Regions from separate parts of the Homo sapiens genome. Here region 1 is linked to region 2. Evidence: fine-mapped expression QTL. A gene starts in region 2. The other region holds a variant in brackets. All regions are shown on one strand. Distances are between the middles of the regions.

Region 1 (15,553 bases), 84 kb before region 2:
AATGGCCTTTCAACAGAGGTCTAAGATCCAATTAGCCATGGTCCAGGGGAACAGGGTATATAGAATTGTCCTTTCCAGGGCTAAGTGAGGCAGGTCAGAAAGCCTCTTTGCAGGCTAGTCATTACTCTCAATTTGGAAGTAATTTATTTAAAATTTCAAAACAAGGGGTATGAGGGAAATACTCTGTGCACAATGATGTATCCCTTCAGCCCCAGAAACCCTCTGTAGAGCTCTAGGATTTGCAGTCAGCATTTGAAAAAATAGGGGGCACTTATTAAAATGGCAGATTCTCAGGGGCCAGTACCAGAGATTCAGATTAAGTAGCTTCAGAGTCAATGAACAGAAAAATCTGCCTTTAAAAAATCAGCCTGGGCAGTGGCTTACACCTATAATCCTAGTGTCTTGAGAGGTCAAGACAGAAAGATCATGAGGCCAGGATTTCGAGACCAGCCTGGGCAACATAGCCAGACCTCATCTCTACAAAAAAATTAAAAAATTTGCTGGGCATGGTGGCATGCCCCTCTAGTCCCAGCTACTTGGGAGGCTGAGGTGGGATGATTGCTTGAGCCTAGAAACTAGAGGCTTCAGTGAGCTATGATCATGCTACTGTGTAACAGAGCAAGACCTACCTCGAAAAAACAAAATTCAGCACCTTCCACAGTTCCGAAGGCAGTCTGTGAAGAAATAGTGTGGTAACCTCATTTTGTCTTGAAATATCTTCCGAAAGATCCTAAACGTTGCCTTTTCCTAACTACCACCTTCATAACAAATAACTTTCCATGATAAAGGGGACATTATTTCTGGCCTCCCCAACACCACTACACCCTTAAAGCCCACTTCCTTCCCCAGCACACACAAACTCCTATACAAACTGTATCTAGATAAAGGCGATAGAACTGGAAGTTTTCTGATGGCTGGGCACAGTGGCTCACCTCTGTAATCGCAGCACTTTGGGAGGCCGAGGCGGGTGGATCACCTGAAGTTAGCAGTTCAAGACCAGCCTGGCCAACATGGTGAAACCCTGTCTCTACTAAAAATACAAAAATTAGCTGGGCGTGGTGGTGGGTGCCTGTAATCCCAGCTACTTGGGAGGTTGAGTCAGGAGAATCGCTTGAACTTGGGAGGCGCAGGCTGCAGTGAGCCAAGACCGAGCCACTGCACTCCAGCCTGGGCGCAAGAGTGAGACTCTGTCTCAGAAAAAAAAAAAAAAAGAACTGGAAGTTTTCTGAAAGCTGGTCTTTTTGTTCCTCAGTTTCTATGGTTGGCCTTACCTGCTCAGTCAAGCATCTTTTATTAATAAGGCCTCGAAATACTCAATCTGACCTAAACAAAATTGACTATGAATGTTTTCCTTGCAAAGATCACATATGCAAGAAAAATGTTTGAAATGTTCACCATCTTTAAAAGAATCTGAAGACACCATTTATAGTTCTGAGTAAAAGGTTTGAATTTAAGCTGTTGCCTCCCTGCCTGCAACAGCAGTAATTCAAGAATTCTAAGTTTTGGCAAGGCACTAAAGTTTGCTGCTTCAGAATTTTTAGAATTTAAACAAATTTTATTGCACCTGTAAATGGAAAAACCCTGTAGAGCAGAGCCTCCCTAGAAAGCCACTTCAGAGACAGGAACCACAGAGGGCTTAATGAATCCCACGTGTCCACAAAGCGTGGCTCAACAGCCGGCAGTACATATGCCAGCAAACACAAACCAGATAGATGCCCTTAATGACCCAGGCCCATTGTAATCGGAACTCCTCGTTTAGAAAGAGAAAAAAATGAACTCTCCTGATTGAAATAACTCCCTCCCCAAAACAAAGTCAAATCCCAATTTCTTTTGAGGTTTACAAAGAGCCCTGATGTTTTGTTGTTTGTGCGTAAATAATACTTAAAGGTGCTCACATTTCTCAGAAACAAGAAGAAGAGAGGAGCTTTCAGAGTTCACTTGATGCCAAATGCAGCCTCAGCCAGACACGTGAGAACCACAATCATCCTTTGGAAACACTATTTAAGATCAAAGGGGTCTATCCTGTACCCTGCTATTCTCATCTCCTGGAATAGGGAAAGACTTGTCAAAAAACAAAACAAAATGAAACCAAAACCAACAGGCAAAAAAACCCCAAAAGACAAAAAACAAAAACCCAAACCCAGATCCAAGCCTGAAGATGGAATAAATGATTTAGCTTCAGAGTTGTTGGTATATAACCCAGCTAGTCCCCACTCCCTCCTATTCCAGCCTTCACCACACCTGCCCCCCCACCTTTATCCTTATATAAAACTTCTTTCTTGAACATTCAATTAAGCAAGTAGTGATTCACACCACACAAGCATATGCTTTAGACTTTGAATACTTACCTCCTAGTTTCTCTCTGCAGAGGATGAGCCTTGTTTGGGGGAATGGTTCCATGAGTCAAACCTTTGCACAAGTTTTGTGGCTCCTATAGCACTCTGTAGTACTGAAGCTGTTCTTCTGGTGGTTCCAGGAGAATTGTCTTACCAACTACAGTGAGACCACTAAGTTTGGTTACCTGCCGTGTTATTTCCCCCATGCAACAGAACCTCTAAATGAAAATACAGGTCTGGGCTGGGCATGGTGGTTGTAATCCCAGCCCTTTAGGAGGCCAAAGCAGGAGGATCACTTAAGCCCAGGAGTTTGAGACCAGCGTGGGTAATATAGCCTGACTCCATCTTTACAAAAATGAAAAAAAATTAGCTGGATGTGGTGGCAGGCACCTGTTGTCCCAGCTACTTGAGAGGCTGAGATGGGAGGATCTCTTAAGCCCAGGAGGTTAAGGCTGCAGTGAGCCGTAATCACGCCACTACATTCCAGCCTGGATGACAAGGTGAAACCCCATCCGAAAAAATAAAAAGAAAGCACAGGTCAGCATTTCATTCTATGTGACTTAGTATAATCACCTGAATGAAATGATAAATGAACCAAAATGGATGAGAACACACTGATATCAACAAACCCCAATGGCACCAAAACAGTTACGCTTCTGGGCAAACTGTCCATTACGGCAATTTAACAGACTTTTGCTCCTTTACTCAATAGGCAATTTAACTGAGAAACTAGAGAGCACTTACAGGAAAAGATGGTAGAGAAACGGGGCAGTGTCCGGCTCTGCCACTCACTCACACAGTGGCCTTGAGCAAGCTGCTAAACCTCAACATGTCCATTTCCACATTTGTGAAAAAAGGGATATGACGAAATAGTGTGATAACGTCACAGGAGAGTCAATGAGTTGATACATATTAAGCATTTCAGAAGAATGCCTAGCACATGGTAAGCACTTTGTTGGCATTGGCTACTATAGTGTAGACCTTCACCACCACCCTTTTTTTTTTTTTTTTTTTTTTTGAGATAGAGTCTTGCTCTGTTGCCCAGGCTGGAGTACAGTGGCGCAATCATGGCTCACTGCAGTACTCACGGCTCACTGGAGTACAGTGGCGCAATCACGGGGCTTGAACCCCGCCTCCCGGGTTCAAGCAATTCTCCTGCCTCAGCCTCTTGAGTAGCTGAGACAGCAGTCGTGTGCCACCACGCCTGGCTAATTTTTATATTTTTAGCAGAGAAGAGGTTTTGCCATGTTGGCCAACCTGGTCTTGAACTCCTGGCCTCAAGAGATCAGCCCGCCTTGGCCTCCCAGAGTGCTGGGATTACAGGCATGAGCCACTGTGCCTGGCCCCTTTTCTTTTTTTTTTTTTTTGAGACGGAGTTTCACTTTGTCGCCCAGGCTAAGTGCAATGGGGCGATCTCGGCTCACTGCAACCTCCGCCTCCCTGGCTCAAGCAATTCTCCTGCCTCAGCCTCCTGAGTAGCTGGGATTACAGGTGTGCGCCACCACGCCCAGCTAATTTTTGTATTTTTAGTAGAAACGGGGTTTCACCATGTTTGGTCAGGCTGGTCTCAAACTCCTGACCTCATGATCTGCCCACCTCGGCCTCCCAAAATGCTGGGATTACAGGCATGAGCCACCGCGCCCAGCCCCCTTCTTTCAATAAAACAAAATACCTAATTAGCGTTATCTGACAGTGTCTCCGAATTTGTCACCAACTGATAACTGTTGTTTCAATAAATATTCATGTGAGCCAGGCACGGTGGCTCACACCTGTAATCCCAGCACTCTGGGAGGCCAAGGCCGGCAGATTACCTGAGGTCAGGAGTTTGAGACCACCTTGGCCAACAGGGTGAAACCCCGTCTTTACTAAAAATACAAAAATTAGCCAGGTGTGGTGGCACACGCCTGTAATCCCATCTACTCCAGAGGCTGAGGCAGGACAATTGCTTGAACCTAGGAGGTAGAGGTTGCAGTGAGCCCAGATCGTGCCACTGCACTCCAGCCTGGGAGACAGAGTGAAACTCTATCTCAAAAAAAAAGGTTTTTTTTTAGTAATAAAAATTGACTTAAAAAAAAAAGTCCTACCTGTAATCCCAGCACTTTGGGAGGCTGAGGTGTGTTGGTCACTTGAGGTCAGGAGTTTGAGACCAGCCTAGCCAACGTGGAGAAACCCCGTCGCTACTAAAAATACAAAAAAAAAAATTAGTCGGGTATGGTGGCAGGCACCTGTAATCCCAGCTACTAGGGAGGCTGAGGCAGGAGAATCGCTTGAACCTGGGAGGTGGAGGTTACAGTGAGCCAAGATCATGCCACTGCACTCTAGCCTGGGTGGCACATTGAGACTCCATCTCCAAAAAAAATAAAGGATAAAAATATAAAAATTCCCAAACATTCTCCACGCACCTTGGGTAGTAACCCAAGTAGAACCCCCAAACCTGATTCCTCTGAATATTTCAGTAGAAAAGCAAAATTATACAGAGCCATAATTTTCTATCACAGTATTTTTATTTAGGGAGCAGCTATGGTACGTGAAAGGCCTCTACCACCTGGTGCCAGCCTTGCTCCTTTCATCAGCCCCTCCAGGGGGCAGTGTAGTAGTAAAAACACTCCCAACAGCAGGCATGGAAGCTGAAACCATGGCACAAAGCCGAGGTGCAGGTGCGCAGAGGGTGGCACTCCATCGTCCCTGTGGTTCCCCAGACACTATCCATCCCATCTGTGTAAGGCAGTCATGGTGACCAAAAAAATACAAATACTCACTTTATGTTGAAGTGGTATGTTTCAGGGGTAGGAGACCTCAGGGCAAGAACAGGGGTGGAGGGAGAGATTTCTAAAGAACTGACAAGGTTCTATTTTAGTAATGGTCAGGGGGTGTCCATTTTATATAATAATCCTTTAAACTGTTCGCATGCTTTTTTATTTTTATTTTTTCACTCTCGGCCTCCCTCCTCTTTTGCATGCTTTATATACTTTTAAATGTGTATATTTCAAAAATTAAAACAATTGTTTTAAATACATTGGAATATGCTGTGTGAGCTTAGGGTTATTTTTCCTCAGAGGATAAGGCAAAGAGAAAATGATATCTGGGAGAACAAATATGACCCACGCGAACCTAGTAAAGTTGTTGCATTCCAGCATGTGTCCCTGTGTATATGTGCAAAAGCAGCTCAGCGCACTCCTGTGACCTTTTTAAATCTAGCATATTATCATAAATAAACACACATAAACAACTAATAACTTCAATTTTTAATAATGGAAACAATTTTGCCATTCTAGAAACTATTTTAGGGGAGAAAAATCTTCCCTACAAAAATAAACTTAAACCCATCAAAATTATAAATATTATAACTTTTTACTTCTGCCATTTAAAATGCTCTCCTGCAATACCACCCCTTCATTTAACATCCTTCCTGTACCATCACATATTGAAGAGAAAACAGTATTACAGCAAAGCTTAGATAGTTTAACATAATGATTTGTACAATGATTCTTAAAAAATCTTTGGCCTTAGTGGCCTTTTTTCTTCACTTACACATTAAAAATGCTGCTGCAGTAACCAGTGTTTGGGAAAGGACATCAGTCTTCAAGAACCATAAACTGACAGAATTTCAATACAGTAGGTTTCCAAATTGCAATTTGTAGTGCACATGACAGTAAGCGAGGTTTTGGGTAAATATAGATGAGGATGCCTATTCAGACAATCTACTTCAAGTAAAAAAAAAAAAAAAAAAAAAATTCACAGATACCCATCAGCTACTACTTTAGGTTCTAACAGTGTCTTAATCTGAGAAACAAATGCTTCACAAAATATAAGTTTACTGGGATGAATAATTAAAAAACCAGGTGGTAATAACAATATACTCAAATCCAGGCCATAGTCTGAATAATAAAACCAGTACAAAAAATCACGAAGGCATTCCCTGAACAATAAAGGTAAAGTGTTGGATGACAATGTCACTAAAACCTCATCAATGTACAAAAGAGAAGTTACATGCAAAATTAAACAAGATGTGCCATACATATTTTATAGCTAATTCTATTTTTTTCAACTTTCCTTAAATGCTTAGGAAGATATGATTGTCTCAGTAAATTGTGTGGCACAGCATAACAACTTAAGTCTGCCTCCAACAAGATGGGTATTCTCCAAAAAGTCAGAAGAGCCACCAAGAGACGAACAGAAATGCAATAAAAGGCACAGTTCACTTGGGCAAAGAACTGAAGCACCTTGGAATTTCAAAAAGAATCCATTAGGTGTCACCAAAGTGTTAACAATTCCTTGGGAATTTATAAACAAAAAATATCTAGACTAAAAATAGAATATAAGGCCCCTCTGGAACCACTGCACACCTTTCCCTCTGTTCTCAGATTAAACTGCTGCATAAAATGAGGTTATTTAGCCTGTTTTTAAGGAAGGCTTCTATTGCACATGCATCTCTTTGGTTGGTAATAACATGTACTTTTGTTAAAATATTTCCATAATGAAGCCCTGTTGTGTGGTTAGCTGGGTGTGGACTTTCCTCCCTTTCTTGGGGGCCCTCCTACTCACAGTCAAGTTGCCCTTTAGAACTAAAGATCTGGTAGGATTGGGTCTTTATTCAATAGCCCTGTTCTCTATTATGTAAGAACAGATTTCAATGTAGAAAAGAAAGGGAGAGGGAGAGAGAGGGAGGGAAGGAGGGAGGGAGGGAGGGAGGGAGGGAGGGAGGGAGGAAAAGAACAAGGTAGGGTGGGAGACAGCAGGGAAGGAAAGAAAAAAGGGAAGAAAGGAAAAGGAAAGGAGGAATAAAAGGGAAGAGAGTGATTGTCACCAAAGTTTACTTGACAAATATCCTAGCTAACAATCAAGGGAAAAACAGCTGCCCCTACCCAAATTCCGTCTCAACTTTGAAAACCACCTGTGGGGGGAAAGCTATACACTATGTAACTTAACAAGAGTTAGTGAACTGTCACTGTCCTGCCTATGCAGAGCAGCTACACCAATCAGACCTTCCACTCCAAAAGGGCAGAATTAAAGGGTCGGATCCAGCTGCGTGAGGCCCACCTCTGCCCAGGTCAGTAGGCTACACCTGCCTGATTCTCTGATTGGTCAGCTGCAGAGTTCATGGGTCCCTCCTTTTGGTTTAGCTCCTGCCTCTGGCTCTGTTCCCATATTCTACCCACCAGGAAACCAAGCGATCCTAAAATGGGTTTAACACCTCCACACTGAATGCTTTTAACTCGTTTACAAGCAACTACCCCTTTCTCCACTACCCCTAACTGAAAAGCCAAGTCACCTTCCATAGCCCGCAGC[A/G]CTCGCCACCACCGCACATGCCTTCTTCCAAACTTACACTTTGCTTTCTCTGTCAACCCCCTAACAAAATCCTTCACAATAAATTCCTCAGAGTTCCTAGATTCCTGTGCCTTTCGATTCACATGGATAGATTCCTCTGACATTAAAAAAAGAAAACAAAACCAAACAAAAAACCAGACAGGTAGTTTCAAAATAGGACAAGTATTCAGAAAGATTCCTAGTTAAGCTTTTTAAAAAATCAACTGCATATCTGTAAGCTTAACAGCATCATCACATAATTAAAATAACCAAAAAAAAAAACACCCCCAGAGTTCATGCTTCCAAGCACCCTCGAATGCTCCTGATGAGGCGACAGGTTCACAGCTTGCCAAGAGGTAACACTGCGGTGCTGAACAACAAGCTTGCAGAGTCCCTTACATGGGACGCTAAGGTGCAGGATGCTGTGTGACCAGGTTTGGGGAACAAAATCTACAGATAGAAAGGCGAAGACCCTAGCATAGTGGGGCAAGACAGCAGCCCTCTGAGAAGAGAGGCACTTGCTGCTGTTTTGTACATCGGTCCTGCACCGGGCCTCACGGGCAGGGAGCCCCGCTTTAATCAGGCTTCCACACCTCACGGAGGGCTTCTTCCAGCTTCTGCCTGTAGGCTGTGTAGCGCCTCTTCAGGTTCTGCAGCTGTTCATCTTCTTCCTTGTCCAAGATGCGCAAGAAATTCTGTAGTTCTGGAAGGCTGAAGGCTTCCCACTGTCAGGAAACACAGAAAGAAAAATGCCAGATGTTTAATACTCAGTTAGACTTAGGAATGCTGACCAGGAGCTCCCAGAGGTGCGGCTGCCCTCCCCTCCCAGCCCCATGCCGCAGAAGGTGTGGTCTGCAAGAGCTGGGGTGTTGCCAGCCTAAGGGCTCCCTCCACTCCCACTCCCACCTCAGCTCACACCAATCACCTTCCTACCCTCTCCTCCCACTGTTCAAGACGATCTCCCTAAAAGCCAGAGACCTCCATATCCCTAAGTCTATTGGACACTTTCATTCCTTACCTGATTTGACCCCCAACAGCATTAAAAACAATTCGACAGTCCTTTCATCTTAACCTCGAGTCCTCATTGTAACTGACTTTCTTACCTCGCATAATCAGTCTTATCACCCCCAAACAGTTCTCCATTCAGCCTTTTCTCCCTCGGTACGGCCCCTTGGTGCTAGCTACTATCATCTATTCCTGCATCGCTGGAACAGCTTCCTACCTGGCCTCCTCACTCGGCTCTTATGCTCCCCCATCTGTTCCCCAAACAGAACATCCTTTGTAAAATGCTCATCTGGCCAAGACTCTCCCCTGCTTAGAACCATCCAATGGCTTCCCTTAGTTGCTGATGCTGTCTGAAAGACTCTAAACTCTCCGGCCCCATCTCTCTCTCACCGAGCTTCACTCTCTGCCCAAGTGGCACGCATTCTCCCCTCCTCCACTTTGCCTGGCTATGAACTACTCATCCTCCCCATCTCAGCTTAAATGCCACTTTCTCTAAGCAGCTTTCCACAACTTCCTCTCCTCTCTTCCCACCCAAGGCTAAGTGTATCAAAAGCCTTCACAGAGCCCCTGATCACAACCAAGATTTTTAAATTACAATTATTTGCTTAATATCTATCTCACCTGCACCTTACCTACACCACAGCTGCCGTACTTCTCGCTATTTGGAGTTTATCTCTTGCCTTGAGGCTCTGAGCCTTGTTTCCCTAACAGCTCCTAGTACTTATTTAGCAGGCACAAAATAAGTTTTTAGGCTGGGCATTGTGGCTCATGCCTATAATCCTAGCACTTTGGAATGCTTAGGCAGGAGGATCATTTGAGCCCAGAAGTTCAAGACCAGAAGTTCGAGACCAGCCTGGGCAAAATAGTGACACCAGGTCGCTACAAAAAATTTAAAAATTATCTGGCTGTGGCAGTACATTCCTGTAGTCCCAGTTACTTGGGAGGCTGAGGTAGGAGGATTGCTTGAGCCCGGGAGATTGAGGCTGCAGTGAGCCATGATTGCGCCACTGTACTCCAGCCTGGGTGACAGTGCAAGACCTAGTCTCTTTAAAAAGAAAAAAAAAAAAATTAAAACAGATTTTAAAAAATAGAAGCAGTGAATGTCAAGGAGGGTATCTAGCATCATCTACGAGGTTTTTTCCAAACACATCCTCCTCTCCCAAAGGGGGCCCTGGATCCTGGTGGAGAACTGCTGTCTGATGGTGTAGAGAAAAGATTCAAGATAACCAAATACAAACAAAGAGTGAAAAATAAGTAAATCCACCAAATGGGCTCAGTGGTAGAAGAATTCCTGGAGAACAGTTTAGGCTGGTTATTTAAAAAAAAAAAAAAAAAAAAGAGCAACATGGAGTAGGAGAGCAAAACTTCTACGTTAGAATATTCTGTTAATTTTTAAAATTTTAACAGATTATCTTTCACCTATGTTGAAGTCTCCAAAATAAAGACATCATATAAATATCCCTCCCACCCCCTAACAGCTATGGAAATTTCTTCCTCAGTTCAGTTTTCCTTAAATAACTGAGAAATAAGAACACCATACAGAGGTCCAGTACAGCAGTCTGGAACAATAAAACCCAATGTCAAGTCAATTTCAAAACTAAGTTAAGGCCAGGTGCAGTGGCTCATGCCTGTAATCCCAGCACTTTGGGAGGCTGAGGTGGGAGGATTGCTTGAGCCCAGGAGTTTGAGACCAGCTTGGGCAACGTAGTGAGACCCTATCTCTAATTATAATTAAAATACAATAAAATAACCAAGTTAATAAAATTCTTGCCCAATGTAGTTCTAGTTGCTACTTAAAACACTAAGTACAAGAAAAATAAAACACTGAGTAGACTATGCTAATGTGTCTGGCTTAAGCTGGCAGAGGGAATGGTCACCATCTGCAAAGCCAAGTCAGATTTCTGCACCCTGCCTTCTCCCCAAAATGAGTCTGAATGTCTTGAAAAGCTTCAAAACACCAGAATCAAAAGAAACTTCAAAAACATGTAAAACCACTGTCTTCCTAAAACTCCCTTCACTTACATGTATACATTTCTAATTGTGACTCAAAGCCCACCTTGTAAAGTGTTTAGTCCCACTTAACAGATTTTAAAACTGAGGGCTAAAAGATTAGAAGACTTATCCAAGGTCATGCTACTAATCTAACAAACAGTAGGAAACAGAGCCGTTTCCTAACTTTTAACCTAGAAACCCTATTCTCAATTGCACCATGTAGGACATTTCACACCATTTCCTGTTCCAGACAGAAGACTGGGACAGGAGCTTGGGATTTGCTCAAGTGTCATTTAAAGCTGACACTTGATCTAGAGGGCAGGCTCAAGTGCTTTTTTTCTTCTACTGAACTGGCTAAATACAATCCTCCCTGGAGACAACATGGCAAATGATGCACATGGAAACATAATTTCTTAATCAGTTGACTGGGCAAGGGGGAAAAAAAAGATGCTAGAAAGCTAAATGCCTTCCATGGTAAAGAGATCGAATTTCCTTTTATATCCCTTTAGAAGGGAATTAGCCTGGAGACTTTTGTTAGTAGCAAACACATGGTGAGTGTCAACTTTCAAAGTTCAGCTGGACTGGAGTATTTTGGAGGTGGGAAGGGGTGAAAATGACTCTCTGGATGGAGATCAAGTAAAAAAACTTTATTTTCTCCCACCTCTGAAAATGACAGACTAATAATATAAGGTTGTGAGAGAATGACATCATAGGCTAACTTTGGGTTCATTTCTGACAATTCAAAATCCCTCTCCCTCTCCCTGCCCTCCAACTCTCTTCTCTTCCCATCCCCCTGCCCTCCAACTCTCTTCTCTTCCCATCCCCCATCAATAGCCAAGTCACTAGGCTACTGCAATAAAATAGGGCCAGCTGTTCTGTATAGTTTAAAGCAATAGTGAACAATAACTTACCTCTCCAATTTCATGTTCACGAAGAACAAAACTAAGTGTGTCTGTTCTGGGCCCTGCTACCAAACGCAGGTAGAGTGGATGTTCCCGGTCTGAGAGCTTGCAGGCGTAGACTGGGTAAAGAAACAAGCAGCATGTTACAGAGTATTCAGCCATTCCTGAGACCACTTCCCCATTGTGATCCCCTCCTCCAGATCAAGGTAACCATCCAAGTTACCCCAGCCTCTAAGTCGCCAGTCGGCTCATCTTATTATTTAATACCAGTAGCCCACAGTGGAATAAAATCTATTCTGTTTCTGTTCAAATATAAACTGTGCCTTGATTAAGAAGGAAATTATTTTCAAGAATAAATTTTAATAGATATTAGTCCCAAAATATGCTTATAGTTAGCTCTGCTCTTCCTTTTAGAAAACAAGGTAAGAGCCAGGCATGGTGGCTCATGCCTGTAATCCCAATACTTTGGGAGGCCGAGGTGGGCGGGTCACCTGAGGCCAGCAGTTTGAGACCAGCCTGGCCAACATGGCAAAACCCTGTCTCTACTAAAAATACAAAAAATCAGCCGGGCGTGGTGGCGGGCACCTGTAATCCCAGCTACTTGGGAGGCCGAGGCAGGAGAATCACTCAAACCTGGGAGGTGGAGGTTGGAGTGAGCCGAGATCGTGCCATTGCGCTCCTGCCTGGGCAACAAGAGTGAAACTCTGTCTCAAAAAATAAATAAAATTTTTTTTAAATGAAAAAAAAAAGGCAAGATAAGAAACCTAAAAAAGGGTCCACTACTCCTTTAAAAACAATAAAAATAGGCCAGGCATAGTGGCTCGCACCTGTAATCCCAACACTTAAAGGCTGAGGCAGGAGGATCACTTGAGGCCTGGAGTTCGAGACCAGCCAGGGCAACATAGCAGGACCCTGGTCTCCAAAAAAAAAAAATTTTTTTTTCTAACTAGCCAGGCATAATGGGGCCCGCCTATAGTCCTAGCTACTTAGGAGGCTGAGGCAAGAGCATCACTTGAGCCCAGGAGTTCAAGGTTACAATGAGCTATGATCATGCCATGGTACTCCAGCCTAGGTGACAGAGTAAGACGCTGTCTCAAAAACCAAGGCCAGGCGTGGTGGCTCATACCTGTAATCCCAGCACTTTGGGAGGCCGAGACAGGCAGATTGCCTGGGGTCAGGAGTTTGAGACCAGCCTGGCCACCAACATGGTGAAACTCTGTCTCTACTAAAAATACAAAAGTTAGCTGGGCATGGTGGTGGGCACTTGTAATTGTAGCTACTTGGGAGGCTGAGGCAGGAGAATCACTGGAACCCAGGAGGCGGAGGTTGCAGTGAGCCGAGATTGTGCCACTGCACACCAGCCTGGGCAACAGAGCAAGACTCCGTCTCAAACAAACAAACAAAAAACAAATTTAAAAAAAAATGTATATACCATCCAAAGAACATAAAAACAAGAGTTCTAAAAGCAAATCTCTCTACAGATTAATTAAGAATTAGCGAGGCCAGGCGCGGTGGCTCACACCTGCAATCCCAGCACTTTGGGAGGCTGAGGCGGGCGGATCACAAGGTCAGGAGATCGAGACCATCCTAGCTAACACAGTGAAATCCCGTCTCTACTAAAAACACAAAAAAATTAGCCAGACGTGGTGGCGGGCGCCTGTAAGTCCCAGCTACTCGGGAGGCTGAGGCAGGAGAATGGCGTGAACCCGGGAGGTGGAGCTTGCAGTGAGCCAAGATTGCGCCACTGCACCTCCAGCCTGGGTGACAGAACGAGACTCCGTCTCAAAAAAAAAAAAAGAATTAGCGAATTAGCAGCTACAAACCAAGCAATCAGAATATAAGCTCCGGTAGCTTCAAGCACAGCTATATATGTCTCATGCTAGACACACACATACAGTGACATTGCCAATCATGTTAAAGGATTTGCCAGCCATGGGGGTAATATTTCAACAAGTCACGATTACTTTCAGATTGTACAGCTAAAGTCCAGGTGAGCAGGCAAAGAAACTGGCAGATAAAAATGCCATCGAGCTTCTCTACATTATTGTGGCACTTCCAGATGCACTGCATCGCAGGTGCCAATTTCCCTATAGATATAAGCCCCCACAATACTAAGCTTGTGACCTCTGAAGGTAGGAACCCTGGCCTGTTCATCTTTGTATTCCACAGGGTCTAGCCCCATGGTTTGTTTTTAAAAAGATGTATGCATACTCAGCAATGAGCTGGGTTTCATCCTGTGTAACTGAAGAACATTACTATCATGTCAAGGTTAATATATTTTCTTCTATAGCTACATTAGGCTTTACCGAGAAAAACCAAAGAAAGCTTAAATAGTTTATTGTACACACACACACACACACACACACACCCCGATTTCAAATCGCATGTAGTGAGTCACTGAATCACTACTGTCCACCAATGTTATCAATTTCTGGTCACTGCCTGACCTGGAATATCTCATTCTGTTTCACGCAGTAATTTAATATTTAATGTTCTCTTTCTATCCCCTGAATGTGGATATGAAGTTTTAGTCAGACCCTAGATCAAAATGTTATTCACTCATTTGATGAGCCTCTGGGGGACAGAGTACCAAAATGTCCCGGCGTAACACCAAGTGAGACAAGCTAAGGCAACAGGAGAGCCCAGGGCTGGGCCGTTTCCATCAGTACGCTGAAATGTGCTGTGATGCACATGTGCCTCCCCAGTCGCAAGATCTCAGCACACATCCACCAAACCACTCCACGTACTGATGCACATCAAATGTGGAATGTGCTATTGAAAACTTCAAACACAGAGGCACTCTTTTGTGTCCTAAAGAAAACTAAAATCAAAGCCACTCCTAACAACCACCAAAAACAGCCCCCGCCCCATCCCCCCACCAACACCACAAAATACTCGTAACTGCCAATCACATATGGATGCTTCCAAGCTCCTCAGACCCTCAACTGTCCAACTCAAAAATATGGACAGCCAGGAAGCACTAAGTGCATGCTAAGATCACCATGGCTTCCAGCATCGGACTCCAGGCTCTGACACAACTGACATGGATGAGACCCACCAGTCTTCCCTCTGCTAATGAGAACAGCAGATGCAAGTAGAAGCACAGACCATTTTCCTTTTAAGCTGGCAGCGTACCTTGGTCTTCCCTGTGACAACGCTTATAAAGTGCAAACTTGGCAGGGCTCTCAGTCACGAGAAACTTTTTGAGCAGGGCCTCGATCACTTCCCCGACAGTGTTTGTGCTGCTGATATGAAGTGTATTCATACAGCCATTGCTACTGGGAGAGAGTTTTCCAGAATTTGGAGAAGTCTGTGGAGGTTTGCAGAGTTCCATCTGTACTTTAATGAAGCCAGTGTAAATCCCATTTGAATTCTGAAGCAGGGAGAGAAGCACACACTTAGCTGGGTGGATGGTGGCACTTTAGGGAAGAAGCATATCAAAACAAAACGGGAAGGTGAAACACTCCTTTGTTCTCTTCTCTTGAGGTTTGTGGCAGAACTTCACTAAAGATTGCCCCCAAAGGAATGACCTCAGAGGGCGGTTAACACACCAGGCAAAGTGCTTCCAGAGGCAAGGTCTGCAGGGCAGATGTGGACACTGAAGAAGCCTCCTGATGCTGTGGCTGACTGCCGGCCCCAGACTCATGCCTCTGAAGCTACTGGCAAAAGGTCAGGGTCCATTTGCGAGGTTACAATCCAACGGAGCAGATGCTAGCCAAACCACAAAACTTATTAAAGCTTGGGGGATATGTCTAGGCTACAGGCTCAAAGGAAACAACATCCTCAACTGGTGACTATTATACACAAAAGGAAGGTCACAATTAGGGCTCTGAAATACTGAAGTCAACAACAAGGGGACAGTAAGAAAACAGGCTATTTTCATTCCTAGTGGCTATATTCATATGCACTGAATTACTAACTCTGCTTAAACTTTTTAATGCAGCATATATGCCATACAGCATAGAATGCATTTCGGGTCTCTTAAGCAGCATTTTAAAAAAAAATTCAATC
Region 2 (15,553 bases):
AAAGAAAAATCTTCCCAACACACCAGGCTGGTACCCCCACATCCATCCATCTGCAGCCACCAAGACAATGGAGATTCAAACCTCTGGCAAGGGCTGCCAGCCCTGCTTCAGCAAACAGCATTGTTCAACAAAAATATCATGCGAGCCACATGCATAATTTTAAGTTTTCCATAGCCATGCTAAAAAATAAGTAACATTAAATTTACTTAACTCAAATATTATCGAATATTATCATTTCAACATGTAATTGCAATTTTTTAATTATCATATTTTACATTCTTTCTTTTTTTTTATTATTATACTTTAAGTTTTAGGGTACATTTCTAATCTTCAAAATCCAGTGTGTATTTTTCACAGCAATCTCAATCAGACTAGCCACGTTTCGATTGCTTAAAAACTACATGTAGCTAGTGACTACTGTATTGTACAGCACAGTTTTAGAATGGTCACTTCTATCTCAGAATATATTTTCTGATTTGTTACTTAAGTTTTTACATATATTTCAAATACTCATCATTTTTTATGGGTTCTGACATCCTTCCTAGAGCATTATCTGGCCCTCTCCATTTAAAAAAAACAAAAACAAAAACAAAAGGCCGGGCGTGGTGGCTCACGCCTGTAATCCCAGCACTTTGGGAGGCCAAGGAGGGCAGATCATGAGGTCAGGAGTTTGAGACCAGTCTGGCCAACATGGTATAACCCCGTCTCTACTTTAAAAATACAAAAATTAGCCGGGGATGGTGGCATGCCCCTGTAATCCCAGCTACTTGGGAGGCTGAGGCAGGAGAATTGCTTGAACCCAGGAGGTGGAGGTTGCAGTGAGCCGAGATCACGCCACTGCACTCCAGCCTGGGCAACAGATCAAGACTTGTCTCAAAAAAAATAAAAATAAAATTAAGCAAACAAAAGCTATTTGACAACACTACTGATAGCCAAACCAGAACTACCTGTTTAAACTATTAAGAAAAACCTGGAATACTCAGGAGGCTAAGGCAGGAGGATCATGTGGGCCCAGGAGTTCGAGGCTATAGGGCACTATTATCATGCCTGTGAATAACAATTGCATTTTAGCTTGGGCAACATAGCAAGATCCCATCTCTTTAAAAATGAAAAAAGAAAAGAAAAAAGAGACCTGGAAAATAAACCAAATTTGATTTGGTTAATTTTGGTTAACATTTTGGTGAATTAACCAGTTTGGTTAACGCTGGTTGAAGTTATTTAAAAAACATTTTCTAACCTTGAAGATGATTACGTTTCTGTTGGAAGACAGTCATCAATAAGGAAATGTGATTGTTTTACACAGGGACGTAAAACAGGAAGTGATACACTTCCACGTCAACATTCCCATCTAAACAGATGTATAGGGCCGGGCACGGTAGCTCATTCCTGTAATCCCAGCACTTTGGGAGGCCGAGGCGGGCAGATCACAAGGTCAGGAGTTCAAGACCAGCCTGGCCAATATGGTGAAACCCCATCCCTACTAAAAATATAAAAAATTAGCCCCATGTGGTGGCACGCACCTGTAATCCCAGCTACTGGGGAGGCTGAGGCAGGGGAATTGCTTGAACCCAGGAGGCAGAGGTTGCGGTGAGTGGAGATCGCATCATTGTACTCCAGCCTGGGTGACAGAGCAAGACTCCGTCTCAACCAATCAATCAATCAATGTATAGCTTTACCACACTACAAAATAGGTGTGTTCCTGAAAAACTACATTTCAAAGTTTCCTCAAATACACTAAAGGAGCAAGCTCTTTAGGGAAAAATTAGAGAGATATTTTCATTTGCCTATTGGGTAAGCTTTTTAAAAACATTGCCAAAAGAGGCCAGGGACTGTGTATTGTTCACCACCCTAACCCCAGAGGTTAGAACAGTATCTGGCACATAGGAGGCACACAATAAATTGTCAACTAAATATATTAATGAATAAATGATGAGTTTTCTTAAAACAAGGGGAAAGTATATAAAGTGAGTTATGCTTAACCAGTAATCACAGATATTACCAATATCATCCCATTTTAAATCACTACTACCTGTAAGATACTGTGAAGGCTTATGGTCTAGTTTGGAAAGGGGGAGACATTGTGTACATTTGTGTATAAAGGAAAACTAACAGTACCAAATACTGGGACATCCATCCAAAATGAGCAGGCTTTCATTTGTTCAAGCACCTTAAGTGCCAAGCATTTATATTATGTAGTAGGTAAAAAATGCTAGTCTCTGTCCTCATTAAACAAAATATAATGATAAATTATAATTTTTGCTATGAAGGGAAAGAACAGCGGGCTTTAAGACTTTTCTGAGTCGACATGTTAAGGAGAATGGAGGGCGGCAACTCCAGGCCATGGTTCTGAGATGGCGATGGGGCCTGAAAGGAATTAAAGAGAAGGCTAATATTGTTGGAGTCCTAAAAGCTCTTACATCACAGGGTGAACAATAAGCGGGGCCTTGTAATAGAGGTAATGCCTGCTTGCCATGAGAATAAAAACTTCCTACAAGGCAAATGTGTGTAGCTCTTCAAACAGAGGAAGATGCAAAGAGGCTAAGTTAGCCAAGACTTGTCATATAGAAGAGAAGCTCCTTTGCATGCATTTATCATATATCCTACTGTCTTTTCACCATCCCCTCTGAAGAGGGACTGCTAGCCAATGGCCTTTGGCCAAATTAGGAGTGAAATACACGTTTCAAACTGGGGCCTTTATTGAAAGACAGCTACTTATGCTTGGAGACTTGGGGGTGGAAAATGCGAGGGCTAATGCCCAGGGCTAAGAGTTGGTGATCAGGCCACACTAGAAAGTATTTGGTCAGACTCAGTTTTTTTTTCTCCCAGAAAAAGAATGTTAACCGTATGACATGCACTGACTGCCAAAGGAAGTCTAAAAAGAATAACCACATTATTGGATATTTTTAGCCTTTCTTTTCAAAAATGTTTTGTGTCACTGCTTTCCAAATAATTCCAAATCTTGTGAGTTGGCCAGAAGAAGAAATGGGATAAGGAGTATACTACTCAAATATGAGGCTTTATAGGACTGGAAACTTTTTCTTCTGAAATTCATTTAAAGGAATATGCCTTTGTGAATCTTGCTCACACAAACACAAAATTCCAATGGATTAATATCGTGTAAGAACAGAACATATCAGACATGCAGAAAAGATGTGTAAATCACCTTGCCCTAGGCAAAATGTCTGGTGAAAATGTTTATGCCCCATAATACGGGAATTAAAAATCAGCATTTAAAAAGCTAGTATAGGCCAGGAGTGGTGGCTCACACCTGTAATCCTAGCACTGTGGGAGGCCGAGGTGGGTGGATCACCTGAGGTCAGGAGTTTGAGACCAGTTTGCCCAACATGGTGAAAGCCCGTCTCTACTAAAAATACAAAAAATTAGCCAGGCACTGTGGCGGGAGCCTGTAATCCCAGCTACTCGGGAGGCTGAGGCAGGAGAATCATTTGAACCCAGGAGGCAGATGTTGCAGAGCCGAGATCACACCACTGCACTCCAGCCTGGGTGACAAAAGCGAAACTCCGTCTCAAAAAAAAAAAAAGAAAAAGGCTAGTAGAGTCAAAATACCTATTATGTCATAAACCACTATTCTTTTACCCCAGTGATCTAGCTCTAAACTTCTAATGGAAACACTAATAAAAGAGTGCAGCTCATTACTGTTGATTCTAGCAATAAGACACAACCAAATAATTGAGGCACAAAAATATTTGAATAAGAAAGAGAAAACCGAAAGGGTGAAGTTGAGGCCTGCTATGGGGAGTCTAATAGACTTACTTACTGAAGTAAAATTCTTCAGCGCAATTTTTTTTAAAGTGTGGGTTGTTCAGAAGACAATTTCACGTTTCTCAAGACTTCTTGACTACCCTACTTCTAAAGCAAAAATACTGTCTCATTTCCTTATTCCCATGAACTACCAAAGGCTCAGGAGGAGAGGTAGCTTAGCTAAGAGGTAAGACACACTCTGACAGATTATAACTTTAGACCATTTCTATTCTTTGGAAATCTGAATGTGTCCTGTATTTACAGGTAGTTTGATTTTGGTGGGAAATCAAGAAGGCAAATAATAAATTACACAACTGTCCACATTTTTGGTTTTGCTGAAAACAATGATTAGGTGGATCCTTTGAAACACAGCGAATCCACAAATACGTGAATCCACAAATACAAATTATAAACACTGTCATGACTATATGCAGGTCAGGGAGTTGAAATTTTAAGAAACAGCCAGGCGCGGTGGCTCATGCCTATAATCCCAGCACTTTGGGAGGCCAAGGAGGGCAGATCACTTAAGGTCAGAAGTTCAAGACCAGCCTGGCCAACATGGCAAAACCCCATCTAGACTAAAATACAAAAAAAAAAGCCAGGCCTGGCAGCGGGTGCCTGTAATCCCAACTACTCAGGAGGCTGAGGTATGAGAATCAATTGATCCTGGGAGATGGAGGTTGCAGTGAGCCAAGATCCTGCCACTGCACTCCAGTCTGGGTGACACAGTAAGAATCTATCTCAAAAAAAAAAAAAAAAGAAAAGAAAAGAAATTTTAAGAAACTCTTAAATTTTAGGTGTCCTTATTTGCAAAGGGAATATGGAGCCATAAAATTATTTTTATAGCTAAAAAGTAACAAAATAGAGAGTGTAATTTGAGTCTGAAAACCTGAGTTCCAGCCTTCTTGCTATCTAGGTGTGGGCCTTATACAATCACTAAATAATACCTCCCCCTTTCATTAAGTTAATGTTTCATACAGTTTTTGGGAGCACCATAAGATACAGTACATTTGAAAATGGTAAAGATCAGGGGCCAGGTGCGGTGGCTCACGCCTGTAATCCCAGCACTTTGGGAGGCCGAGGCGGGCAGATCACCTGAGGTCAGGAATTCAAGACCAGCCTGGCCAACATGGTGAGACCCCGTCTCTACTACAAAATTTAGCTGGATATGGTGGCAGGTGCCTGTGATCCCAGCTACTCGGGAGGCTGAGGCAGGAGAATCGTTTGCACGCGGGAGACGGAGGTTGCAGTGAGCCGAGATCACGCCATTGCACTCCAGCCTGGGCAACAAGAGTGAAACTCCATCTCAAAAAAAAAAAAAAAAAGAAATGGTAAAGACCCAGTTACTATCAAATCAGGAAAACATTCATTCATTCAGCTTGCATTCACTGAGCAACTACTGTATATCAGGTACTGATCGAGACCCTGCGGATACAATAAACATGACATTCAAACTGCCACAAAACGTCATATGTTCGTTCCCTTTATATCTTTTAGACAGTTTTGTTTTTGAGACAGGGTCTCGCTCTGTTGCCCAGGCTGGAGTGCAGTGGTGCGATCACAGCTCACTGCAACCTCTGCCTCCCGGCCTTAAGCAATGCTCCCACCTCAGTCTCCCGAGTAGCTGGGACTACAGGCGAGCACCACCATGCCTGACTAATTTTTGCATTTTTTTTGTAGAGACAGGGTTTCACCATGTTGTCCAGGCTGGTCTCAAACTCCTGGGCTCAAGCAATCCTCCCATCTCAGCCTCCCAAAGTGCTGGAATTACAGGCATGAGCTACCACACGTGGCCTAGACAGGTTTTTTAACCCTTTTCCATTTTTGTTGTTGTTCTTGTTGTTAAGAATGGGGTTTAAAGTAAGAAAAAAAATGAAAACATTTTCTTTATAAGGTTTTTGTTACTGTTGGGGATAGAAAGAAGTTGCACTATGTTCCCTTGCCTGGCAAGAGAAGAAAGAAATTTCCAGTCCACCCGCTCCCTCACCCCTTTCTCCCCATTCTGCATTTACCACAAACATCTTGTTTTCTCCGGATATTTTCAAGAAATCTAGAAACCTCATTTTTCTCACTTTTCCACCAGGTGGTACAGCATCCAAAAAAAAAAAAAATCACTGTATCTCTAATAGATCCTTCTAGCAATACCTCTCTTTCCATCTCTCTAGAGAAAGGATAAATTTCACTACTATGATGTATGTCAGAAGTGCTTATCTTATTCTTATAATCATCAGCATGAAAATGAAGAAAAAGGCTTATCTAACGTTAGATAAAAGGAACATTCTACATTAAGAGTGTTTTGCTTTATATTTATGATGTTTTACTTCCCTAATTCACCAATCTTACCAGGAATTTAAAACATTCATATCACTTCTTTAAATAAACCACAATGCTCACTAAAATTCGTAGTTTAGAACACTTTCTCTGCCTGGCAAATAACTTCTACAACTCAGCACCTTACATGTGTTATGTTAGAAGGGAAAAATATGCAGGCAATAAAGCTTCAAATACACATATGAAGCTCTTCAACCACGAACTATGTCTTCCTGTCCTGATTTCCAACACGATATTTCAAAATACATATTAATGTTAGACTAATTCTAAATGCTAAATAATACTACCCTGAGTATAATATATATGCTAGATGATACATAAATGATTGCATACAACATAGAAACAATAAATGTGCCGGGGGCGGTGGCTCACATCTGTAATCCCTGCACTTTGGGAGGCCAAGGCGGGCAGATTACCTGAGGCCAGGAGTTCGAGACCAGCCTGGCCAACATGGTTAAATCCCATCTCTACTAAAAATACAAAAATGAGCCAGATGTGGTGGTGCATGCCTGTAATCTCAGCTACTCGGGAAGCTGAGGCAAGGGAATCGCTTGAACCAGGGAAGCTGAGGTTGCAGTGAGATCACACGACTGCACTCCAGCCTGGGTAACACAGTGAGACTCCATCTCAAAAAAAAAAAAAAAAAAAGAAACGCTAAATGCATATAAACCTAGAAAAAAACTGATGTCTTTACTCTTTAAAGCACTAAAGGATTCTCATACAATTCAAACCTGAATAGTTTGGCCCTTGTGGCATCTCACCCCTGGAGAATCCAAGAACCAGCCAGTTTTCAGGAGATTAGCAGACACCTCTGGAATAAACTTCAAACTACCATGAGTTCCTTTTCATGTCAAGTGGTGAAAGCAACATAAATGAAAGGAGAAAATGCAAAACGGAGAAGGGGAAGAGAGAGGCCAAGAAAGAGAAAGCAAAAATGGAAAAAGCATAAGCAAATGCAATTTTTCTACAACCCAGGGAGGGTGGGCATGGGGGAGGAGAGGGCGTTTCCAACTTCCAAACTTCACAGCAATCTCATGCTCTCAGAACACACTCTGCTGAAAGTAAGAGATCCCACTCAAAGTGACTCGTAAATAGTGGGGCCTTAAGCCTTAGAAACAATACAAGACGGACAACTATGGCACCGGGACTTGAGATTAACTGCGGTTACTGAATAAGGGCACTTGACTTCAGCTTACCCTTCACCGTCTCCTCTCCTCCTCCTGGTTTGGGACTTAAGAGCCTGAAAAGACTAGAACTTCCGAATTTTAGAAAGAATTTTACTTCAGAAAGTGGCTAAACTTAAGAGGTCTGGCAAGACCACCCTGACAGATTGCACCCTCCCACATCCACCAAAAGAAGTTATCATCCGGCCCCTGAACGATTCTTCTTGCTTCTAGTCTCTAGGTCTCAGTCCGGTATTAATAGAAATGTTTGGCGAACGCCTGTTTTCTAAAAGCAACAAATTTGTGCCATTACAATCTTCTGTAATCTGATGTGAGCGTGGCCGGGTTGGCCCGGCTCCCCTGGTGCGGCTCCTAGTGCCAGGAGGCCGCGGGCTCTAGCACCGGGCTCCTCAGTCCAGCCGACGTGCCCCGTTTCGGGAAGGCCTCCCAAAAAACACGGCTACAGCTGGCGAAACTGGCACAAGTTCCCTTCCCATCTTTTCCCAACTCGTGCTTCCCACGGCATGCTGCCTCCAAAAAAGGAAGAAACCGGCGAAAAGGTTAGCTGTCGCTGGCTAGTATTTAGCATAGGAGCTTGTTTGCAAAACATCTGGGCACCAAAAAACCTAGCTTTACAGAAAACGCACAACCCTGAGTCCCGCAACGGAGATTTAGTGAGAGCCTATGGTGGCGAGGCCCACGGTGCCCTTGGACCCCCACTCCACCAGGTCGCCCGGGCCAGGAAGAGGGGAGGTCAGGTCACCCGGCCACCCCTAGCTATTACACGTTGACCCAAGCCACTCTGGGGGCCACAGATGAGTAAGCTGACTAACAGGAAGGACAGGCGCGCGAACCCGACCGTCGACCCAGCGGGGACGCGAAGGGGAAACCTGGGGGAGTGGCCCGGGGACGCCTGCTGGCTCCGGGGCTGCTCCCCGCAGGCGGCAGCCCGAGGCGGAGCTGCAGAGGCCATCTGGCGCGGAAGGCAGAAGCCGGCCCTCAGCCTCCCCGCCCTTCCTCCGCCTTCCCTCGCCTACACGCACAAGCTCCAGGCACGTTCCCGGGACCCGAAAAGGCAGAAGCCACTTCTCGGCCCGCTCCTCCTTCCCGGCGAGCATCCCCCGAGCGCCCCGCAGAGACACGTGGAGGCAGGGGGCGCGGGCTGGCGGGTTCCCCGGAACTCTGGGGCGCGGGCTGCAGCGCCCGCCGCGCGCCACTCACTTGTTGGCCGGAGCGGGGCTTGCCCTGGGGCGCTCTCCTGAAGAAGGAGGTCCTGGCGGTGAAGAAGAAGTCCTCGGCGTCCTCCTCCAGGCTGCTGTAGCCGCTGCTCATGCTGCCGGTCCCGTCGCGCGCGGGCGGCCTCCCCGGGGCGCAGGCGGCCAGGGAGGGGGTGCGGCGCCCGCCAGCCCCGCGAGGTTCCCGGCGCGCAGCCCCGGGCAGTCCTTATGCAGCTGCGGCCGCCGCTCAATCAGGCTCTCCCGGCCCCTCCTGCCGCCTCCCCGCCAGGCTCCAGGCGCGGCTCGGCCCCGGTGCGCCCGCGACCCCGCCTCCCTGGGCCCCGCCCCGGACGGGCGACCGGCCGAGCCCCACCCCGCGCGGCCGCGACCCTCCCCGCCCGCCCGCAGGTGGGGGGAGCCCGGCCCGCCCCTTCCAGGCGCGCGGGTTTCTCCCGACAGCGTCGCGGAACCCGGAAAGCCGGGCGCTAGGGCTGCGTCTGCTGGGGCTGTGCTCGGGTCGCTTCCTCAACCTCCCGGAAACTGCAAATTCCTCTGCGAGCCGTCCGCCCGCCCCCAGCCTCGCTGGCTCGAGTTTCGGAGAGGGCGGGAGCAGAGCGGGGAACTTTCTCTGCGTCCACTCCCTGCTCGCCCCCGCACCAGGGTCCTGTAGGGGTGGGTGGGGGTTGCCCGGCCGAGGGACCCCCCAGGTCCCACGGCTTCCTGCAGCCGCAACGCCCAGTCCTGAACCCCAGCAGCTCGCCCCTCCAGGAGGATTTCAAGTTGGCAGAGATGGGTGGGGAGGTCAAAAACTGGGTTGAGTTTATTCGAATGAAAACATCCTTTCTGGTCATTCATTTGAGCTTCGGTCTTACCCTTTTCCCCTTCTTTCTAGCGAGGGCTCACTTCCAAATAAGATCGTTATCTTAGGCGCACTCAGTGCAACTGAAAGGTGAACTAGTTCTATAGTTACAGAACAATCGAGTGCTTATCAATTAAATGTGCTTTGTAAATGTCCCCGCCACAATCAGCCTTCCACGGTCACCCACAAGGCATGGTTTAAGTGGTGGGGATAAGGAGATCAGGGAATTCCATCCATCCACGTACAAAAAAAGTTTCCATGTTTTCTAAAACTCTTCAGTCAGCTAATCCTCTTAAAGCCACCAGTGGGTAACAGTCTTTTACACCTTGGTGTTACTGCACTGATTTAAATAATACTAATTTCAAGATCTTGACTGAAAGGTTTTTTTGAAGCTGCAAGCCCTGCTATAGTTAGCGAGCTTCAGAAGAGGTTTCATTAGGAGGGGAAGAGAGACGTTAGAAAAGAGAAAATGTCCATCCATCATAGCCAAACTAGCCAAACTCTCTTACATTATCTCCTTCAATCCTCCGAGCAACTCTGCAAGGTACGTAGTGCTATTTTATGCCGGTTTTACACCTAGAGCAGCAGCTGAGGCTTAAAGAAAGGAAAGTGGCTGTAGGAGGCAGTACTCGGACCGTTCTGCTTTGCGTTCTGTTGATCTGAACGTGGTCACATACCCTACTGGGTTCTCTGCTTGGTATCGGTCAGCCGTGCTCTTTTGTGGACTACAGGAGGAAGAGTTGGACCCGAAATGACGGGAAGGAGAGAAGAATTGACTCATGAGTCATCCTACTGTCCCTAGGCTGAAAGAAGGCTTGCAAACCTGCTCCACCTTCGGGCTTACACATCCATCTTGTAAACTAGTATATATTACCCCACGTGATTCACAACAACTCCAGAAGGAGGGCCTTTGAGTTACAGCCCATTTTAAAGGTCCTACAACATTAAAGTCTTCTTCTCGGCCACACAGCTACTGAATGATAGGAAGCCAGGAATTCTAACTCCATATAGTTTCACCCAGCTTAAGCTGATCCGTGTGTGTGCCATGCACATAATCTAATGTAGGAGAATAGGGCTTTATGACAAATTTTTCTTATTTGGTTTCTCTTATTTCATTATTCAGATATAATATTAGCGCAGCTCTTATTAAATATTCCAAGGTAAGAATAATGTGTAGGTTAAGGGCTTAAATTACTCATTTTATTGTGGGTAGAAAGGGGAAAATAATTTTACCTAGAACAAGTTGAAGTTTATGAATACTTTGAGGAAAAATGCATTAAAATGCTTTATTGGCCGGGCGCGATGGCTCACGCCTGAGGAGGCAGAGGCGGGTGGATCACTTGAGGTCAGGAGTTGGAAACCAGCCTGGCCAACGTGGTGAAACCCCGCCTCTACTAAAACTACAAAAATTAGTTGGGCGTGGTAGCGTGCGCCAGCTACTCGGGAGGCTGAGGCAGGAGAATCGCTTGAACCCGGAGTGGCCTAGGTTGCAGTGACCCGAGGTGGCGCCATTGCACTCCAGTCTGGGCGACAAGAGCAAAACTTCGTCTCAATAAATAAATAAATAAACTTTATGATGCACCACACCATAAAAATGATTTTTTTCATTGTATTATTTTTAAGCTCCAAAGGACTGGATTAATTTGTATATCTGTCAGCATACCATCAGAATCAGTTATAATAAAAAGGCATGATTGAGTGGGGCACAGGGGGAAGCTGAGGTGGAGGATCACTTGAACTCAGGAGTTCCTATCCAGCCTGACCAACATAGTGAGACCTTTTCTCTAAAAAAAAATGATTTTTTTATAAAGGCATGATTAGGCCAGGCATGGTGGTTTACGCCTGTAATCCCAGCACTTTGGAAGGCCGAGGTGGGAGGATTGCTTGAAGCCAGGAGTTCAAGACCAGCCTGGGCAACAAAATGAGACCCTGTCTCTACAAAAACAAAAACAAAAAACAAAAAAAAATTAGCCAATGTGGTGTCACATGCTAGTGGTCCCAGCTACTCAGGAGGCTAGGTGGAAGGATCACTTGAGCCCAGAAGTTTGAGGCTGTAATGAACTATGATCTTACCACTGCACTCTAGCCTGGGTAACAGAGTAAGAGTCTGTCTCTTAAAAAAATAAATAAATAAAATAATTTTAAAAGCCATGATCAAATAATGAAATGGAAGCACTGCTTTTAAGCAACAAAAAAAACATAAATAAAGGAAAGGGCCGAGTGAGGTGGCTCACGCCTGTAATGCCAGCATTTTGGGAGGCTGAGGCCGGCAGATCACTTGAGGTCAGGAGTTCAAGACCAGCCTGACCAACATGGTGAAACCCCCATCTCTACTGAAAATATATAAAAAAATTAGCTGGGCATGATGGCACATGCCTGTTGTCCCAGCTATTCGGGAGGCTGAGGCAGGAGAGTCACCTGAGCCCTGGAGGCAGAGGTTGCAGTGAGCCAAGATCACGCCACTGCACTCTATCCTGGGCGACACAGGGAGACTCTGCCTCAGAAAATAAATAAATAAATAAATAAATAAAGGAAGGAAGAATTGTGATTTTGTTTCCTAAAAGCAGCATAATGATATTTGCATATTTTTCTGGTAGCTTTTTTTTTTTTTGAGACAGGGCCTCACTTTGTTGCTGGAGTGCAGTGGTGCCATGTTGGCTCACTGCAGCCTCGACTTCCCAAGCTCAAGCAATCCTCCCACCTCAGCCTCCCGAGTAGCTGGGACTACAGGCATATGCCACCAGGCCTGGCTAATTTTTATATTTTTTTTGTAGAGACAAGATCTCACTATGTTGCCCAGGCTGGTCTTGATGAACTCTTAGGCTCAAGTGATCCTCCCACCTCGGCCTCCAAAAAGGCTGGGATTACAGGTGTGAGCCACCATGCCTAGCCTGGTAGCATTTTTAATTAAAATATTGTGAATTTAAAATTTAGCTCATGAAAATTGTATCTGTAAAAATTCAAAATGTCATGTTAAGCAACTAGACACTTTTAACATTTCAAATTCAGGGAAGGGGGTGGAATAAATAAAATTAAATGTATGCAACCAAGTTCAAGTTTTGTTTTGTTTTTTTGAGACGCAGTCTCACTCTGTCACCCAGGCTGGAGTGCAGTGCTATGATCTCAGCTCACTGCAACCTCTGCCTCCCGGGTTCAAGCGATCCTCCCGCCTCAGCCTCCCGAGTAGCTAGGATTACAGGCACGCACCGCCTCACCCGGCCAATTTTTGTATTTTTAGTAGAGACAGGGTTTCACCATGTTGGCCAGGCTGGTCTCAAACTCCTGACCTCAGGTGATCTGCCTGCCTTGGCTATCACTGACTCTTATGTGACCTTTAACAATTTAATTAACTTCTCTATGCCTCAGGTTCATCAGCAGCAAAATGGGGATGACAATGTCTTCATTTTATTTTCTTTGGTTTACTGTAAGGATTAAGTGAAAGAATCCAGGCAAAGTCCTTGGCATAGAATAGGATCAAGCAAATATTCATCTTTCTTGCCCCAAATATTAGACCTTATTGCATACTTAACATTCATCACTCACTTCTTTCTTGTTAACTAAACAAGGACTTTAATTCAAGAATCCCCTCGGGAAAAGAAGTCCAATCTCAGCTCACAGGGGTAAGGCCTGACGTGCAGAGTCAGTCGTAGTGGTCCCATTCCCCTTGCCAGGGATTGCTTTAGGCATGGACAGGTCTCACAGACCTGACCACTGAGACCAGAAGGAAACCTGGCTTGGTGCCTTTTAGGAAGATGTTCCTCACTTTTAAAAGAAACCTACAAAAAAAGACTATGTCTTCTTCCTCTGGATCTTGCATGCTTGCATATGGTACCTAGGAATTCTGTAGCCATATTGTGGACAAAATAGACACCATGGCAAAGCAGAACAATACAAAGACTTCATAGCTCTTTGATTAACCAGGTTTGACACCACCCTAATTAGGACTTCTTGTTATGTGACATAAGATATTATCTCGCTGCTTTTTTTTTTTTTTTTTTTTTGAGACGGAGTTTCGCTCTTTTTACCAGGCTGGAGTGCAATGGTGCAATCTCGGCTCACCGCAACCTCCACCTCCCGGGTTCAAGCGATTCTCCTGCCTCAGCCTCCCGAGTAGCTAGGATTACAGGCATGCGCCACTACCCTGGCTAATTTTGTATTTTTAGTAGAGATGGGGTTTCTCCATCTTGGTCAGGCTGGTCTTGAACTCCCAACCTCAGTTGATCCACCTGCCTCAGCCTCCCAAAGTGCTGGAATTACAGGCGTGAGCCACCACGCCCGGCCTAGATACTGCCTTGTTTAAGCCAGTTGAGTTGACCTGTTATCATCCTATATTCCCATCATTTTGTTCCTGCTGGAATAGTCATATCTCTCATAATATTTCTGCCACGTTCTGTTCTCCTCCATTGACATTGGTAGAATCAGTAGAGACAGATAGAAAAAGAAGTAAGAGTTTTTAAATGATTGCTAAGTTGTTCCCCTGAAGATAATTTAGAAAGTTCATTTTCTTACCTTAAAAAAAAAAGCAACCCATAGCAGAGGTATTTAAATTGGCTTTAAAAAGGAAAAAAAATATGTTCTAAAATTTCTCTCAAAAATTCTGACAGGCTGGGTGTGGTGGCTCACACCTGTAATCCCAGCACTTTGGGAGGCTGAGGCAGGCAGATCACCTGAGGTCAGGAGTTCAAGACCAGCCCGGCCAACATGGTGATACCCCATCTCTACTAAAAAAAATACAAAAATTAGCTGAATGTGGTGGGTGCCTGCAATCCCAGCTACTCAGGAGGCTGAGGCAGAAGAATCACTTGAACCAGGGAGGTGGAGGTTGCAGTGAGCCGAGATGGCACCACTGTACTACAGCCTGGGCAACAGAGCAAGGCTCTGCCTAAAAAAAAAATAAAAATAAAATAAAATAAATTAAAAAAAAAATATATGACAAACTCAAAGATGATAGGAGTTGGTTACATGGCCGGGCACGGTGGCTCACGCCTGTAATCCCGGCACTTTGGGAGGCCGAGGCGGGCGGATCACAAGGTCAGGAGATCGAGACCACGGTGAAACCCCGTCTGTACTAAAAATACAAAAAATTAGCTGGGCACGGTGGCGGGCGCCTGTAGTCCCAGCTACTCGGGAGGCTGAGGCAGGAGAATGACGTGAACCCGGGAGGCGGAGCTTGCAGTGAGCCGAGATCGCGCCACTGCACTCCAGCCTGGGCGACACAGCAAGACTCCATCTCAAAAGAAAAAAAAAAAAAGAGTTGGTTACATCAGCCTGGTAGCTGGAGGACAGGCTCTTAATAGTTGAACCGATACAATCAGCGGCTGTTCTCTTTGGTCAGTGCCTATTGGCTGCAACTATCACCCTGGTTGCTTCCATTTTGTTCATGGCAATGACAGGAATAAATGGTATAATAACTGAAAGGCAATGTGTTTGGTTGTTAAGTATGTGGGGTGAGAAATCAGCCTGGGCTGGGCACAGTGGCTCACACCTGTAATCCTACCATTTGGAGAGGCTGAGGCAGGCAGATAGCTTGAACGCAGGAGTTGGAGACCAGCCTGGACAACATCACGAAACCCTGTCTCTACAAAAGATACAAAAATTAGCCGGGCATGGTGGTGTATGCCTGTAGTCCCAGCTACTCAAGAGGCTGAGGTGGGAGGATTGCTTGAGCCTGGGAGGTCAAGGCTACAGTGAGCCATGATCAGGCCACTGCACTCCAGCCTGGGCAACGGAGTCAAACCCTGTCTAAAAAAAAAAAAAAAGAAAACCTGTAATCCGAGCACTTTGGGAGGCTGAGGTGGGCAGATCATGAGGTCAGGAGATCGAGACCATCCTGGCCCACATGGTGAAACCCCATCTCTACTAAAAATACAAAAATGAGCTGGGCGTGGTGGCGTATGCCTATAGTCCCAGCTACTCAGGAGGCTGAGGCAGGAGAATCGCTTGAACCCAGGAGGCAGACATTGCAGTGAGCCAAGATCGTGCCACTGCACTCCAGCCTGGCGACAGAGCAAGACTCCATCTCAAAAAAGAAAAAGAAAAAAAAAAGGAAATCAGACTGCCTGTGTTCAAATGTGGGCTCAGATGGTGTGACCCACAGCATATTATCTAAACTGGTTAAACCTCAGTTCTACATCTGGAAAGGGAGGGTAATAAAATCTTACCTTATAGGATTCTTAAAGGGATTAAGTAAACTAAGACATGCAAAACATTGTGCCTGGCAC

What was found. PIP is the estimated chance that this variant, and not a neighbour inherited with it, causes the effect.
Region 1: its variant is fine-mapped to the expression of RASSF3 in T cells (TOPMed, PIP 0.95).

What each region holds. Positions count from the first base shown.
Region 1 is chr12:64,687,578-64,703,130 of GRCh38, reverse strand. RASSF3 (Ras association domain family member 3) reads right to left here. Exons shown (of 5, transcript NM_178169.4): 3 at 14,678-14,915; 4 at 11,552-11,661; 5 at 5,567-8,368. The coding sequence ends at 8,219. Among named protein-coding and RNA genes, the nearest start is that of GNS, 64 kb to the left of the region's middle. RefSeq lists a silencer at 8,648-8,942. The variant A/G (reference allele first, on the strand shown) is at 7,626.
Region 2 is chr12:64,603,668-64,619,220 of GRCh38, reverse strand. RASSF3 (Ras association domain family member 3) reads right to left here and starts at 8,726. Exons shown (of 5, transcript NM_178169.4): 1 at 8,478-8,726. The coding sequence starts at 8,588. RASSF3-DT (RASSF3 divergent transcript) reads left to right here and starts at 9,755. Exons shown (of 2, transcript NR_187549.1): 1 at 9,755-9,876. RefSeq lists silencers at 8,197-8,266, 8,477-8,996, 9,157-9,226 and enhancers at 9,857-9,916, 10,137-10,186.